Regions from separate parts of the Homo sapiens genome. Here all the other regions are linked to region 2. Evidence: fine-mapped expression QTL. A gene starts in region 2. Each other region holds a variant in brackets. All regions are shown on one strand. Distances are between the middles of the regions.

Evidence for each region.
Region 1: its variant is fine-mapped to the expression of NUDT5 in whole blood (TOPMed, PIP above 0.99).
Region 3: its variant is fine-mapped to the expression of NUDT5 in whole blood (TOPMed, PIP above 0.99).

What each region holds. Positions count from the first base shown.
Region 1 is chr10:12,263,515-12,268,514 of GRCh38, reverse strand. No RefSeq gene overlaps it. Among named protein-coding and RNA genes, the nearest start is that of CDC123, 70 kb to the right of the region's middle. RefSeq lists enhancers at 3,826-3,925, 3,800-4,338 and silencers at 4,146-4,205, 4,776-4,825. The variant G/A (reference allele first, on the strand shown) is at 2,620.
Region 2 is chr10:12,192,969-12,197,968 of GRCh38, reverse strand. It overlaps NUDT5 (nudix hydrolase 5), which reads left to right and starts at 2,078. Exons shown (of 10, transcript NM_014142.4): 1 at 2,078-2,199. CDC123 (cell division cycle 123) reads right to left here and starts at 1,781. Exons shown (of 13, transcript NM_006023.3): 1 at 1,650-1,781. The coding sequence starts at 1,723. RefSeq lists an enhancer at 1,765-2,034.
Region 3 is chr10:12,241,354-12,246,353 of GRCh38, reverse strand. It overlaps CDC123 (cell division cycle 123), which reads right to left. Exons shown (of 13, transcript NM_006023.3): 11 at 77-205. Among named protein-coding and RNA genes, the nearest start is that of CDC123, 48 kb to the right of the region's middle. The variant TA/A (reference allele first, on the strand shown) is at 2,303.

The DNA of each region.
Region 1 (5,000 bases), 71 kb before region 2:
CACACGCACACACACATTTTAATTGACAGATAATAGCTGTACATATTTACAGGGTAGATAGTGATGTTGCAATATACATAATGTACAGTGATCAGGTCAGGGTAATTCCTATATCCACAATTGCTGGAAAAGGAGGAGAGACCCAAGAGACCAGTCTTTTGGACTTGAGTTTTTGAAAATATATATTTAATTTTAAAAACTTGCAAAACAGGCCAGGCACGGTGGCTCACGCCTGTAATCCCAGCACTTTGGGAGGCCGAGGCTGGCAGATCACCTGAGGTCAGGAGTTAGAGACCACCCTGGCCAACATGGTGAAATCCCATCTCTACTAAAAATACAAAATTAGCTAGGCATGGTGGTGCATGCCTGTAATCGCAGCTACTTGGGAGGCTCAGGCAGGGGAATTGCTTGAACCTCGGAGGCAGAGGTTGCAAGTGAACTGACATCATGCCACTCCACTCCAGCCTGAGCAACAGAGTGAGTGAGACACAATCTAAAAAAAAAAAAAAAAAAAAAAGGCCAGGTGCGGTGGCTTACCCCTGTAATCCTAGCACTTTGGGAGGCCGAGGTGGGCGGATCACAAGGTCAGGAGATTTAGACCATCCTGTGAATGGTGAAAACCCCGTCTCTACTGAAAATACAAAAAAAAAAAAAAAAAAAAAAAAAATTAGCCGGTCCTGGTGGTGGGTGCCCGTAGTCCCAGCTACTCCAGAGGTTGAGGCGGGAGAATGCCGTGAACCTGGGAGGCGGAGCTTGCAGTGAGCTGAGATTGCGCCACCGCACTCCAGCCTGGGAGACAGAGCGAGACTCCGTCTCAAAAAAAAAAAAAAAAGGCTGGGTGTGGTGGCTCATACCTGTAATCCCAGCACTTTGGGAGGCCGAGGCAGGCAGATCACAAGGTCAAGAGATTGAGGCCATCCCGGCTAACAGGGTGAAACCCCGTCTCTACTAAAAATACAAAAATTAGCTGGGCGTGGTGGCACGTGCCTGTAGTCCCAGCTACTCGGGAGGCTGAGGCAGGAGAATCGCTTGAACCCGGGAGGCGGAGGTTACCTTGAGCCAAGATTGCGCCACTGCACTCCAGCCTGGCGACAGAGTGAGACCCCGTCTAAAAAAAAAAAAAGGCAAAACAGATACACAAAAATAGAAAATCTAAATGGTTCTATATTTATTTATTTATTTAAGTCTCTCTCGGTCGCCCAGGCTGGAGTGCAGTGGCGCGATCTCGGCTCACTGCAAGCTCCGCCTCCCGGGTTCACGCCATTCTCCTGCCTCAGCCTCCCGAGTACCTGGGACTACAGGCACCCGCCACCACGCCCGCCTAATTTTTTTGTATTTTTAGTAGAGACGGGGTTTCACTGTGATAGCCAGGATGGTCTCGATCTCCTGACCTCGTGATCCGCTGGCCTCAGCCTCCCAAAGTGCTGGGATTACAGGCGTGACCACCGCGCCAGGCTATATATATATATTTTTTAATCAAATCTATAATAGAGGCCTTTCCTAAAAAGAAAAAAAAAGCCTTTTGAACATATATATTGCAGAATTACATAGGATTACATTTCTACACCAATTATATTGCCATTTAAAAATATTTCTCACTTGGTTACATAAAAATATTATTCTACAACAGTGTAATATGCATTTTTTATTCTGTCTTGAACATCTTTTTATATATTTATTGTATATTTGTGTTTTTTCCTTTATGAATTGCCTGTATAACATCCTTAACCCAATCTTATTTTGTTTAATTTTGAAGTCCTTTTATTTGTATGTTAACTATATTAAGCTTTGATCTGGCATATTTGTTACAAATTTTTTTTTCTATTAGTTTGGCTTTTGATTTGGTAAATGACATTTTAAAACATGCACTTGTTTTTAAATTGTATTTGAAATTTTTAAAAAAGAATAGTCTACCTGAGAAGACCTCTGAGAAATATGATTTTCCATCTCATTACAGCTCCATGACACTGTAGCGTGCCTTACAGATTGGCACCGCTAACAATTATACAGCGAGCTGGTCTACCTCTCAATGCCTCTTGATCATGAGCTCTCAGGAAATGACAGCTCCGGGAATTAATATCCAGAAGACGAGTCTTGGCCGGGCGCGGTGGCTCACACCTGTAATCCCAGCACTTTGGGAGACCGAGGCAGGCGGATCACAAGGTCAGGAGAGCGAGACCACCCTGGCCAACATGGTGAAACGCTGTCTCTACTAAAAATACAAAAATTAGCTAGGTGTGGTGGTGTGTGCCTGTAATTCCAGCTCTTTGGGAGGCTGAGGCAGGAGAATCGCTTGAACTAGGGAGTCGGAGCTTGCAGTGAGCCGAGATCGCACCACTGCACTCCAGCCTGGCGACAGAACGAGACTCTGTCTCAAAAAAAAAAAAAAAAAAAAAAAAAAAAAGCCTCTGGGCCCACCTCTTCTCTTCAGGGCTCCTACAGATAACACATTGGTCCTGGCCACTAAAATGTCCCAATGCCAGCTGAGAGAGGAAGATAAGAACTGGCAGGCCCCCCTTTCCTCTGGAAGTTGTGTCATATTCTGTGAACTTGGCCTCAAGAGGGAGATAAGAACTGGGTAAGGCTCACTTCCCCACGGAGATGGTTTCATGCCCAGTA[G/A]ACACTTGCCCCGAGTCCGGAGAAGCAGTAGGTGCTTTGCAAATATTTACCTAGCTACATGGCAACCGGGCAGTGCTGTCAGAGTTCTGTGTCATTTCTGGGCCACACGCCCCACACCCCATTCTCTCCTCTTGCATTACAAAGGCTACGTCCCTTCCCACAGCTACCTTTCCACAAGTGTTCAAAACCACGTGAAGGTCAGACTCCTTTGATTTCTAAATCATGCCCTTAGCCAAGATTGAACTTCCAATAGAGAAAATTTTAGGTTTGCTTTCATGTGTGAGGTGAAATGACTGTCCCTTTGTCAGAGGCGTTTGAACCAGAGCAACTCCATCTTAAACAGGAGCTGGGTAAAATAAGGCTGAGACCTACTGGGCTGCATTCCCAGATGGTTAAGGCATTCTAAGTCACAGGATAAGATAGGAGATCCGCACAAAACACAGGTCATAAAGACCTTGCTGATAAAACAGGTTGCAGTAAAACAGTGGCCAAAACCAACATGGCGAGGACAGTGTCCTCTGGTGGTCCTCACTGCTACACTCCCACCAGCGCTATGACAGTTTACAAATGCCAAGGCCACATCAGGAATTACCCTGTATGGTCTAAAAAGGGGAGGCATGAATAATCCACCGCTTGTTTAGCGTATCATCCAGAAATAACCATAAAAATGGACAACCAGCAGCCCCCTGCGCTACTCTATCTATGGAGTAGCCATTCTTTTATTTCTCTACTTTCTTAATAAACTTCCTTTCACTTTACTCTATGGACTCGCCCTGAATTCCTTCTTGTGCGAGGGTCTCTTGGGGTCTAGATCGGGACCCCTTTCCGGTAACACCTTAGATTTAAGAGTTCAGGTTCATCCTTCCTTTGTCAGGAATAAGTATCATAAGCAACACAGCCTTTGCTTGTTGCTAGTTCTTTTTTTTTTTTTTTTTTTTTTTTTTTTTTTTTTTGAGATGGAGTCTCGCTCTGTCACCCATGCTGGAGTGTAGTGGTGTGATCTCGGCTCACTGCAACCTCCACCTCCCAGGCTCAAGCGATTCTCCTGCCTCAGCCTCCCCAGTAGCTGGGATTACAGGCGCGAGCCACCGCGCCCGGACACAGCCTCTGCTAGTTCTGCCACTGATCTTCCCACAGGTACATTAAGGAAACTCAGTGTTTGGCGCTTAAACAAATCAACAACAACAAAGCATGGTAGAGAGAAGGCCCAGAGCACCACCCTCCCACGCTGTCCCTCGGGAGCTGAGGGGAAAACACCCAATGCCTTCAGAGACCAGCTGCACTAAACCGCCTTCTCAGAATGAGGGAGGAGCTACTGGCTTGGGGATGTCTCCAGAGCACATTTCTAGAAACACTTGAGAATACGAGAGAAAGAGAATACGAGAGGAAGGCCTAGGTCACTGAAAGCACAGGGAGCAATTTAGGCTTTTGTCTCGGTGTAAATGACATCGTGAGCCGTGCCCCCGCCCCTGCTCGTGGCCTGAGGGCCTGGGGGAGGGCGGGCATCCACCTGGCACTGGCGGCCTCGGCCTTCACCGCCGCACGCGCGGCGCCATCTTGTGGCCCATCCCTTTCCCAGGCTGGAAGCAGCCACAGGCCGATTCTTCCAGCCTTACAAATTCTGTGAAGTACAGTATTTAGACTATTTTTGATTAGTTTAAGAAAACAGCATGGCCAGGCGCGGTGGCTCACGCCTGTAATCCCAGCACTTTGGGAGGCCGAGGCAGGTGGATCACCTGAGGTCAGGAGTTCGAGACCAGCCTGACCAATATGATGAAACCCCATCTCAACTAAAAATACAAAAATTAGCCAGGCGTGGTGGCACACGCCTGTAATCCCAGCTACTCGGGAGGCTAAGGCAGGAGAATCGCTTGAACCCGGGAGGTGGAGGTTGCAGTGAACTGAGATGGCACCACTGCACTCAGCCTGGGCAACAAGAGCGAAACTCTGTCTAAAAGAAAAAAAAGAAAACAGCATTATGCTCAACAAATTAACGCAGAAACGGAAAACCAAATACCGCATATTCTCACTTATTAAGTGGCAGCCAAACATAGGGTACACATGGGCGGAAGGAGGGGAACAAGACACTGGGGACTCCCAGAGGGGAGAGGGAGGGAGAGGGGAAGGCGTGAAAAACGACCTGTTGGTTACTGTGCTCACGACCTGGATGAGGGCTTCAGTCACACCCTAAACCTCAGCATCCCGCAATATACCCTTGTCACAAACCTGCACATGTACTTCCCAATCTAACATAAAGGTGAAATTTTAAAATCAAAAAAGAAAGACAGCTTCAGCTTCCACTTCTTAGTTGAAAAAGAGTCCATGACACATGTTCCATTGGATCTAACAGTTAATAAATATTCACTGCGACTTCCCCCACC
Region 2 (5,000 bases):
GAAAAGATTACAGCCTGCTTTCCCGAAGTTAACAGAACATCAATGACTTATAACATGTCTCATTTATTTATGGAAGAAGTTTTTTTTGGCACATTACAAATGGTTTTTTTGCACAAAAAAGAGTATTCATGGGCTACTTCGGTTTTAAAAATAAGTATTTTTATTTATTTTTAAATAAATAAAAGATCACTGCCACTGCACTCCAGCTTGGGCGACAGAGCAAAAACTTCGGTTTTAAAAATAAATATTTGATTTATCAAAGGTACAATTTCACATTCAAAAATCTAGTTCTGGCCGGGCGCGGTGGCTCACACCTGTAATCCCAGCACTTTGGGAGGCCGAGGCGGGCGGATCACGAGGTCAGGCAATCGAGACCATCCTGGCTAACACGGTGAAAACCCCGCCTCTACTAAAAATACAAAAAATTAGCCGGGGGTGGTGGCGGGCGCCTGTAGTCCCAGCTACTCAGGAAGCTGAGGCAGGAGAATGGCGTGAACTCGGGAAGGGAAGCTTGCAGTGAGCCAAGATCGCTGCCACTGCACTCCAGCTTGGGCGACAGAACAAAACTCTGTCTCAAAAAAAAAAAATCTAGTTCTTCAGGCTTTTAATTTCTTCTAACAAATCTTATTACGTTTGAAAATCTACTAAATTTTAAACAATTTCAAGCGAAACTTTGCAACTTAAAAGTCTCTTTAAAATTTTAAATTCTATTCATAAACCACTCAATTTTCTTTCTTAATATGTCTATTTGCTGATTACAAATAAGCCTTCCTAAGTATTTTACTCTTACAAAGCTAACAAGCGAAATTGTTAAGTACAATGAATCTAAGGTTCTACCACACATTCCAATACTATTTAAGAACTTGAAACTTTTCTTATACATTTTAACCATTCTAAGCCAGTTACACATTTTCAAGTACATATCCGATCTTTATTGAATGAAACCATCATATAATGAATCAGCAATTACTGAAATGTTGGCTCAGAAAATCAGTTAAGTGCAAAGCCCAGATTTTCTATCAACGCCTTTAAAAAAACTGAGAGATGAAATTGTATATATTAATACTTGCCGCCTACCTGATGTTTTTAAGTATATATACACTGTGGAATAAATTTAGCTAACAAATGCATTGCCTAACATAGTTATTTTTGTGGTGAGAACACTAACATCCACTCTCCGTTTTTCAAGAATACGTATATCGTCATTAACTATAGCCTCCATGCTGTACGACATATCTGTGAACTTGTTCTCGTATCTAACTGTAATTACGTATCCTTTCACCTTCCCAATCTCCATCCTCTGGGGTGATGGCGAAAAGCAATTAATTCTCCGAGTGCACTTAGGCAGTGATCACCTTGCGCCTGGGGCCATTCTAAAAGTAGTGGTGGTGAACTCCCAAGCCTAAACTAGGTTAATCCACTATTCCTCCCGCCTCCGACCCTCACTGAAAACCACAACTGACCCTCCTAGCCAGCACACTCGCTGGCTCGCAACAGGACGCAGACAATTGCTGATGTACTTCCCTCTCGACACACTCCCTCCCATGCAGTCGCTAGAAGGCCTGCATTTTTTTGGATAGCAGTAAGATTCGCTCAGAAGTCGCAGTTCCCTTTTGCCGGTCGACCGGGCGAACCCCCTCCCATCTCACCTCTTGATGGTAACGCCTCGGAAGAACGGGTACCACGCGGAGAACTGGCAGTGAAGCACATGCTCCTTCTTCATCCTCCAGCTGCCGCCGCTGCTGCCTTTCCCTCTCCTGCCTGCACCCTCCCGGAACTCTGGGCGCCGGCCCCGGAAGTGCCCGCCGAGCTATTTTGGTTCAAGGACTCTTCCGGTCCCTAAAGCAAGAAGGAAGACCGAGAAAAGGAAGCGGAGGAGAATCCCGGGGCATACGCTTGACACACACGCATACAAAAAGAGCTTTAGTCTCGAAAGAGGAATTACCGAAGTGTCGAGAGAGGAATTTTAAGAAGTTTACAACTCCGTCTTCGCCCTAAACGCACGCTGACCCGGAAAGTAATCTCCTGAAGCTAGGTCAAAGGCGGGGGTTCTACGGATGCCGGAAGGAGGGTGCGCGCCCATCCTTTTAGCACCGCGAGAGGCGCCGGTGTTTCGAGCCGTGGCACCGGCATCGGCTGACACTGCTGCCTCCAGCTAGTTATTTCGTCCTCTTCCGTTCTTCACCCCTACACCTTGGAGTAAGTAACCGGGGCAAGCCAGTCACAGCACAAAACCTCTTTGGGGAGGAGAAGAAGAAGGGGAAAGGGACCACATCTGCATGGTGCGTGCAGCCGCGCGGTGTCTCCCAGGCTGCGGCTGGGCACGCGTCCAGGCGCCCAAGAGGGAAACTGGGGATTGGAGGGAAATTGTGGATTGGAGAGGAAGAGCCTGGGCTACTCCGAGTAAAGAAAGCGGGGAACACCACAGCTAAGTGTTAGTTCCAGTGTAAAGATTGCAGCATCTGCAGAGGAGTAGAATGCTTGGTAGAGGGAATACCGCCTGTACGATCCTGGAGGGTTCGACTTTGGGAGGTAAAAGGCGAGAGGTAAATGTGAGAAAGCAGAGGAAAGAGGAGTCTCCTTGGAGCGCTGAATTCGTTTAGTCTGGCCTCGCAAAAGTTGTCAACCTGGAAAAAACGCAGATTTTTATCAGTATTCCTGCGATGATCGAATCATAAGACTGGAAGAATTCGAATCGAACTTGTACTATCGTTTTTTCCTTTGCTTCACTCCTGTCACCCAGCAAAGTTCAGTTTTGTTTGTTTCGTTAAAAGAATGAGAAGTAACTAGCTGCTTTTATTTATTTATTTGAGACGGAGTCTCACTCTGTGCCCAGATTGGAGTGCAGTGGCGCAATCTTGGCTCACTGCAACCTCCGCCTCCTGGGTTTAAGTGATTCTCCTGCCTTAGCTTCTCGAGTAGCTGAGAGCGCGCGCGCGCCACTACGCCGGCTAATTTTTGTGTTTTTAGTAGAGACGGCGTTTCACCATATTTGCCAGGCTGGTCTCGAACTCCTAACCTTAGGTGATCTGCCCGCCTCAGCCTCCCAAAGTGCTGGGTTTACAAGGCGTGAGCCACGGCCCCGGGCCTACCAACCAGCCGCTTTTAACCCCTAGTCGTGTCGCTTACCACACGAGCTTTAGGCTTGCGCGAGGCATCTGCGTCTAAAAGTATCTCCTTAAATGTACATTCTTCCTGGTTCACCTAAGTAGTTTTAAATTAGAAACAGCCCCACCGACTGCAGGCCTCTTCAGAAGGGTGTTCCTTAGAATAATAAACAATTATCTGCGTATTTTGAGTTAGAAACTCTTCCCCCCAGGAATATATACATTGTTTTGGGTTGTGTTTTGTTTTTCTCAAAAATGTTACTGGCTAAGTGGCTAGTTGGAAGCAGTGCTTTAAAGAATACATTTTCAAAGCAGAGGTAAATAGATTATAATGTTGCAGAGTATGTTGGTGGGGATGGACAGTCATGATTCATCATTTATGCCTTGATCCGGAACTATGCAGTCCTTTCTGATTTGAGGGAAAGAAGCAATATTGTATATATGTCTGGAGGGTGGTGCCAGAAAGACTTAATGGCAGACAGGAGCAGTCGCTCAAATAATTGTTTTGATTTGACTTAGAAAGTAAAAAATTGCGCGGAAGGAGATGTTAGCATCGATGGGGGATTTATTTAGGTCAGATGTTTTCTAATGAAGATAGGAATGAATGTACGGAAGAGAATAGATCCCGGGAACATAGCCCTTCTGCGAGGAGCAGTACTTTAACAGCCCAAGAAACATTTGAGCATAGGCCGGGCGCGGTGCCTCATGCCTGTGATCCCAGCACTCTGGGAGGCCGAGGCGGGCGCATCACCTGAGGTCAGGAGTTTGACCAGCCTGTCCAACATGGCGAAACCCCGTCCCTACTAAAATATCAAAAATTAGCCGGGCGTGTTGGCGCATGCCTGTAGTCCCAGCTACTCGGGAGGCTGAGGCAGGAGAATCGCTTGAATCCGGGAGGCGGAGGTTGCGATGAGCCGAGATCGCGCCACTGCACTCCAGCCTGGCAACAGAGCGAGACTCTTTTTTTTCCGTCTCGGGAAAAAAAAAAAAAAGAGTGTAGAGATTAAGGCAGTTGCAAAGCTTTAATATAGAATTGCAGTTGTGTGTAGAAAAGCAGCTAAGTTTGTAAGCTTAAATATATAGATACTACAGGGAAGGAATTTTTATAGATACCTTTTATTCAGGCAGTATACTTTAGAAGTGTGTTCAATGACTTTTTGGTATTACAGTTGGTTTTAAGTAACTTGTTACACATTTAACCAGCATCAAATAAATTGACATTATACATAGGAGATGCTCAAATACTTTGAATGGATACAGCTAAATGAGGGTTCACTGTATTTTAACCACCGTGGTTGTCTTCACTAAGCCATGAAGTCATTGTATTCATCAAGTTTCTCCAATAAAACCTTTCAACAGTGGAAATATTTGCTTTTTCTCCTGCATGCTGAAAAGTCAGTAGTCATGTGATTATGGGGGAGGAGATTTATTGTGCAATTCCTAATGAAGTAATGAAAAAACACATTTCTTTCTCTGAATCCATAGCATGACTAATCATCCTAGATTAAGATTTTCACCTGTCTGCTGGTTTTCTTCATCTGGATGTCTGCTATCACCTCAAACAAGCGTGTACAGATTTGAGCTCTGCATCACCCCTTTTTTCTTCCGATGTCCCAGTCTCCCTTAAAACTGTCTTCGTGGAAATTAAATGTCACTTTGCCACGGCTACCACTCTACTCCAGACCTGTCATCTCCTGCCTGGACTATCTTTACAGTGTCGTTACTATACGTCTGTAACCAATTCACCTTCCCAAGGGTCATTACAGTCAGTTCACTCTTGCTCAACCAGCATTAAATGTGAGGATTTTAAACCACCTGCTAAATGATTCCTGGAGATCACCAAGTAGCATAATTTCAGTAAACGTTAATTACTCCCTGCCCACCCAACTGCCA
Region 3 (5,000 bases), 48 kb before region 2:
CTATGCGTCTGAAGAACAAGCAGTCAGTCAGTAGACTGGAAAGGTTTACATTGTATCTGTCTTAAAAATGTTGTACCTGCTCTTGAGCGTCAACTTCACTAAAATCGCCGTTTAAGTTGTTCTCAGATATCAGTTCTTCCCAGGTGAACAGCAGTGAATCTGTGACTTCACCAAATGGATTAAAGTCAATGAGCCACACCTTCCCCTGTAGCACAGAGAGAGAAAAAACAAAAACAAACATCTTCTGTACTCTGTCTTCTGAGAAAGAAACACTTTTTTATTCTGAGACAGGGTCTCATGCTGTTGCCCAGGCTGCAGTGCACTGGTGTGATCACGGCTCACTGCAGCCTCGACCTCCTGGGCTCAAAGGATCCTCCTGCCTCAGCCTCCTCAGTACCTGGGACTACAGGCATGCACCACCACATGCAGCTAATTTTTGTATTTTCTTCGAGACAGGGTCTCGCCATGTTGCCCAGGCTGGTCTTGAACTCTTGGGTTCAAGCAATCCCCTCACCTCAGCCTCCCAAAGTGCTGGGATTACAGACATAAGCCACGTCGCCCGGCCAGAAAGATATTCTTCATATTATTCTAATCTTAAAAATCTTCTCACTTATTTCAAAAGATCATCTGTCTATATCCCATCTGAGAAAGGGCCGCCTGTCTGAATAGACAGAGATCTAAAGGGAGGGCCCCCTGTGAATGAAGAGAGAAGGGACCCAGTAAAGCTCTGCCTAAGAGATAACGTTCCAACTCCAGCCTCAAGCCACAGTGGAACTTTAAGTCAAAGATTCCAGCAGGGCCGGGCATGGTGGCTCACACCTGTAATCCCAGCACTTTGGGAGGCTGAGGCGGACAGACCACTTGAGCTTAGGAGTTCAAGACCAGCCTGGGCAACATGGTGAAACCCCATCTCTACAAAAAAATATAAAAATTAGCTGATTGCGGTGGCAGACGCCTGTAGTCCTAGCTACTTAGGGGGCTGAGGTAGGAGGATTGCTTGAGCCCAGGAGGTCAAGGCTACTGTGAGCCGTGATCAAAACACCACACTCCATCTATCCTGGGTGACAAAGCAAGACCGGGTCTCCAAAAAAAAAAGAAAAAAAGATTCCAGCAGGAAAGGGAACTGTCACCCAAAGGCGAAGGGTCTGCGGTCTGACCAAAGCGTCTTCCCGGAGCCTTCAGTGCTCTGTTCAGGGGGAGCCGGACGGAGCCAGGCAGTGCCTGCGACTCCAGAGAGCAGCGCTTCTGACTCGGGAAAGGCTGCTGCCAAGGGTGGATTTTTTTACCATATGCAAGGATGAAGATGCTGGGTTTTTTTCTGTGGTTTTTGTTTGTTTTTTGTTTTTTGTGAGAGTCTCACTCTGTTGCCCAGGATGGAGTACAATGGTGCGATCTCGGCTCACTGCAACCTCCGCCTCCTAGGTTCAAGCGATTCTCCTGCCTCAGCCTCCCGAGTAGCTGGGATTACAGGCATGCGCCAGTATGCTTGGCTAATTTTTGCATTTTTACTAGAGACAGGGTCTTACCATGTTGGCCAGGCTGGTCTCGAACTCCTAACCTCAAATGTCCTCCCACCTTGGCCTCCCCATGAGCCACCGTGCCCAGCCTGAAGATGCTGTTTTCTTTCTATGTGAATGTGGTAAGTGTTCCGTCTGTACAATAGAGCTTGACAGCATATGAAGGGGACGTAAAAAAAAAAAAAAAAGAAAAAAGAAAAAAAAAAAACCACCCCAACCTCTGAAAGAAATGTCTACCTTGTCCTGTTCTGAAACCACAGGTGGGCAATTTGGTGACTCTCCTCAGGGAAAGGTCACCTTTGAGCTGGGGGCACTGTGCTGAGGTAGGGCTGGGGCCTCTGAGCAGAAAACAGCCAGTGCTGACACGCACAGAGCGGGGGCACAGGGGCTGCGCCGCCAGGAATGACGGCCACGGCATCCGATCACGAACACCTATTGACACGAAGTGGATGGATGTTTCCTCGAAAGGTTTATCTTTGCTCCTTTTCACTTTTCTCACTGAAACATTCATATATTTGTGCCATCTGGTTAATAATGAATTTGTTTTTTTCTATAAATGTGTTGCCGCCATGTCCTGAGCGGGTGTGTGTCTGTGAAATTCCAAGCAACAAGACCGCTGAGCCAGCATGCCTAATATCTGGCACTGTTTCTCAGCTGAGCGAGAGCAAACTGTTAAGAAAGATGCAACATCTAATTAGGACTTGCTTCAAATACCAGAACCTCCAGTTAAGTGGCACAGGCCTGTCGCAGGATGTTTTCGCAGGATGTTTTCAGCACAACCCATT[TA/A]GGTAAGTTCCTCATTTTATACAAGCCCCAGGAGAGGCCCTGCAAATTTCTCACCGCTTGAGTTGTTTCCTCACCTCCATTTGGCACCCACTTCTTCATTCCTGGAACTATGTGAAACAGTATCAGCCGTCAAACAACTTCTTGGTAATGATGTCAACTTTATTTTGGAGAATACTGCTAAGATGTCTTCAATATATGTCATGATACAAAATGGACATTTTCTAACCTCCAAATCTTTTCTACTTGACTTTCTTTTTTTTTTTTTTTGAGATGGAGTCTCGCTCTGTCACTCAGGCTGGAGTGCAGTGGTGCGATCTCTGCTCACTACAACCTCCGCCTCCCGAGTTCAAGTGATTCTCCTGCCTCAGCCTCCCAAGTAGCTGGGACTACAGGCGTCCGCCATCACGCCCAGCTAATTTTTTGTATTTTTAGTAGAGACAGGGTTTCACTGTGTCAGGATGGTCTCGATCTCCTGACCTCGTGATCTGCCTGCCTCAGCCTCCCAAAGTGTTGGGATTACAGGCGTGACCCTCTGTGCCCAGCCTCTACTTGGCTTTTTATAGTCAGTAAAACTAACTCATTTTTTTTTAAACAATCACACTTTTAATATAGGAATATGCCACAATGCAAAAAACCAAACCACATTTTTTCCTTTTTTTTTTTTCACTCTTGTTGCCCAGGCAGGAGTGCAATGGTGAGATCTCGGCTCACTGCAACTTCCCCTTCCTGGGTTCATGCAATTCTCCTGCCTCCACCTCCTAAGTAGCTGGGACTACAGGTATGCACCACCACGCCTGGCTAATTTTCTATTTTTGGTAGAGATGGGGTGTCACCATGTTGGTCAGGCTGGTCTCCAATTCTTAAACTCAGGTGATCTGCCCGCCTAGGCCTCCCAAAGTGCTGAGATTACAGGCGTGAGCCACTGTACCCAGCCCAAAACACATTTTTAAATGAAAACAAACCACCACTGTTAATTGGTAGTGTACTCTGTAGCTCAGAAGCTATCCTCTAGTACAAAAAAAAAGAGTTTAAGTAAATTAAAAAAAACCCAGCTGTAACTTCTATAAACTAGGAGGATCAGGATCAGGATTTTATAACTTTTTTTTTTTGAGACAGAGTCTCGCCCTGTTGCCCAGGCTGGAGTACAGTCGCGCGATCTCAGCTCATTGCAACCTCCTCCTCCTGGGCTCAAGTGGTTCTCCTGCCTCAGCCTCCCAAGTAGCTGGGATTACAGGCGCCTGCCACTGTGCCTGACTAACTTTTGTATTTTTAGTAGAGACGGGGTTTCACCATGTTGGCCAGGCTGGTCTTGAGCTCCTGATCTCAGGTGACCTGCCTGCCTCAGCCTCCTAAAGTGCTGAGATTACAGGTGTGAGCCACCACGCCCGGCCATAACATGTTTTCATGTGACATCTCAAGCACAAACAGCCTGAGAAGTTAATTCTGCTTTGAGGCAATCCAATAAGCAAAGAGCAGTCGGACTAACTGTCCTTGTACCAGCTGACTGTCTCCCTGCCCCGATCAAGCTCTAGGGACCAGACACTGTGTTAGGCACTGGGCATGAAGATCGTAACACAAAATCGACTCCTTCCAAGAGCTCAGGCTTGAGCAGAACACACATCTCCACTTCCCCAAAACAGAACCAAAAGCCATCCAACAATGGCAATGTGCAGGGTATTTTGCTTCAAGAGAGGCAAGAACAGGGAACTGTGAGAGCGGAGAGGCACACAGGAGAGCCTGCCTACATGTGCGAGGGAAGGCTGGAAATGCTTCCCAAAGGACCTGGGCACCTGAGGGATAACAGAGATGCCCTGGGAGGAGGGTGGTGTTGGCAGGAAAAGCGGACCACTTAACAAGAACGACGGCTCTCACGTACAGAGGCCACGCCACGACCGCCTGTTGCGGGAATAGGTTATTTTGGCTGGAGTGTGAGATATGTGAGGGCTCCTGAAATACAGCCAGCTATGTAACTCTCAAGGCTTGCTGTTCCAAACAGGATGAAACACATGCTACGACAAGCCGTTTAAAAGTGTAATTGAGATTATGAGAAAGACCGGGAAATCCCCCGGGGCCAGAAACAAGAACCCGAAGAACAGAACTAAGCCTATCAACTCTAGTGCTGTGGGAACCCGTGGGAGGGTCTCCTAGCAGCCTGGCCACAGGAAGGGAATCAGAACTCAGACACAAACTCCAGAAGGCGACAGTCTCAGGAAAGGGAGTGTGAGGAGACAGTTCTAATGACAGGGCAGGACACAATGACTGTTCTTCTCTGAATGAGTTTTGAGGAACATGGTAGAAGCAAATGAAAAACCCAAAATTTTGGATCTTTGGGATTCTCACAAACAAAAGAACAAACAAAAAGAACAAGCTCACTGAAGATGAACTCAAAGTAAATAAATAAACTGATTTACAAAACAAAAAAGAAACAACCAACCCGGATGAGAGTCTGTAAACGCAACAGGCATTAAAGCCCCAAGAACTCTGGAAATCATCATCAATCTGAAGGACAGTATAAAATAAATATATTGATGCTAGACAAAAAGACTAAGGGGGATCCATATCGCATACCAAACACGCAAAGGAACAAAAGCCAAACATCCAATATTGAAATGGAGAACAAGAAGTTACAAAAGAACTGGACAAAAACCATGGGGAAGTATTTTTTAAAATGATGGCTGAAATTCAAAAGCCAGAAAA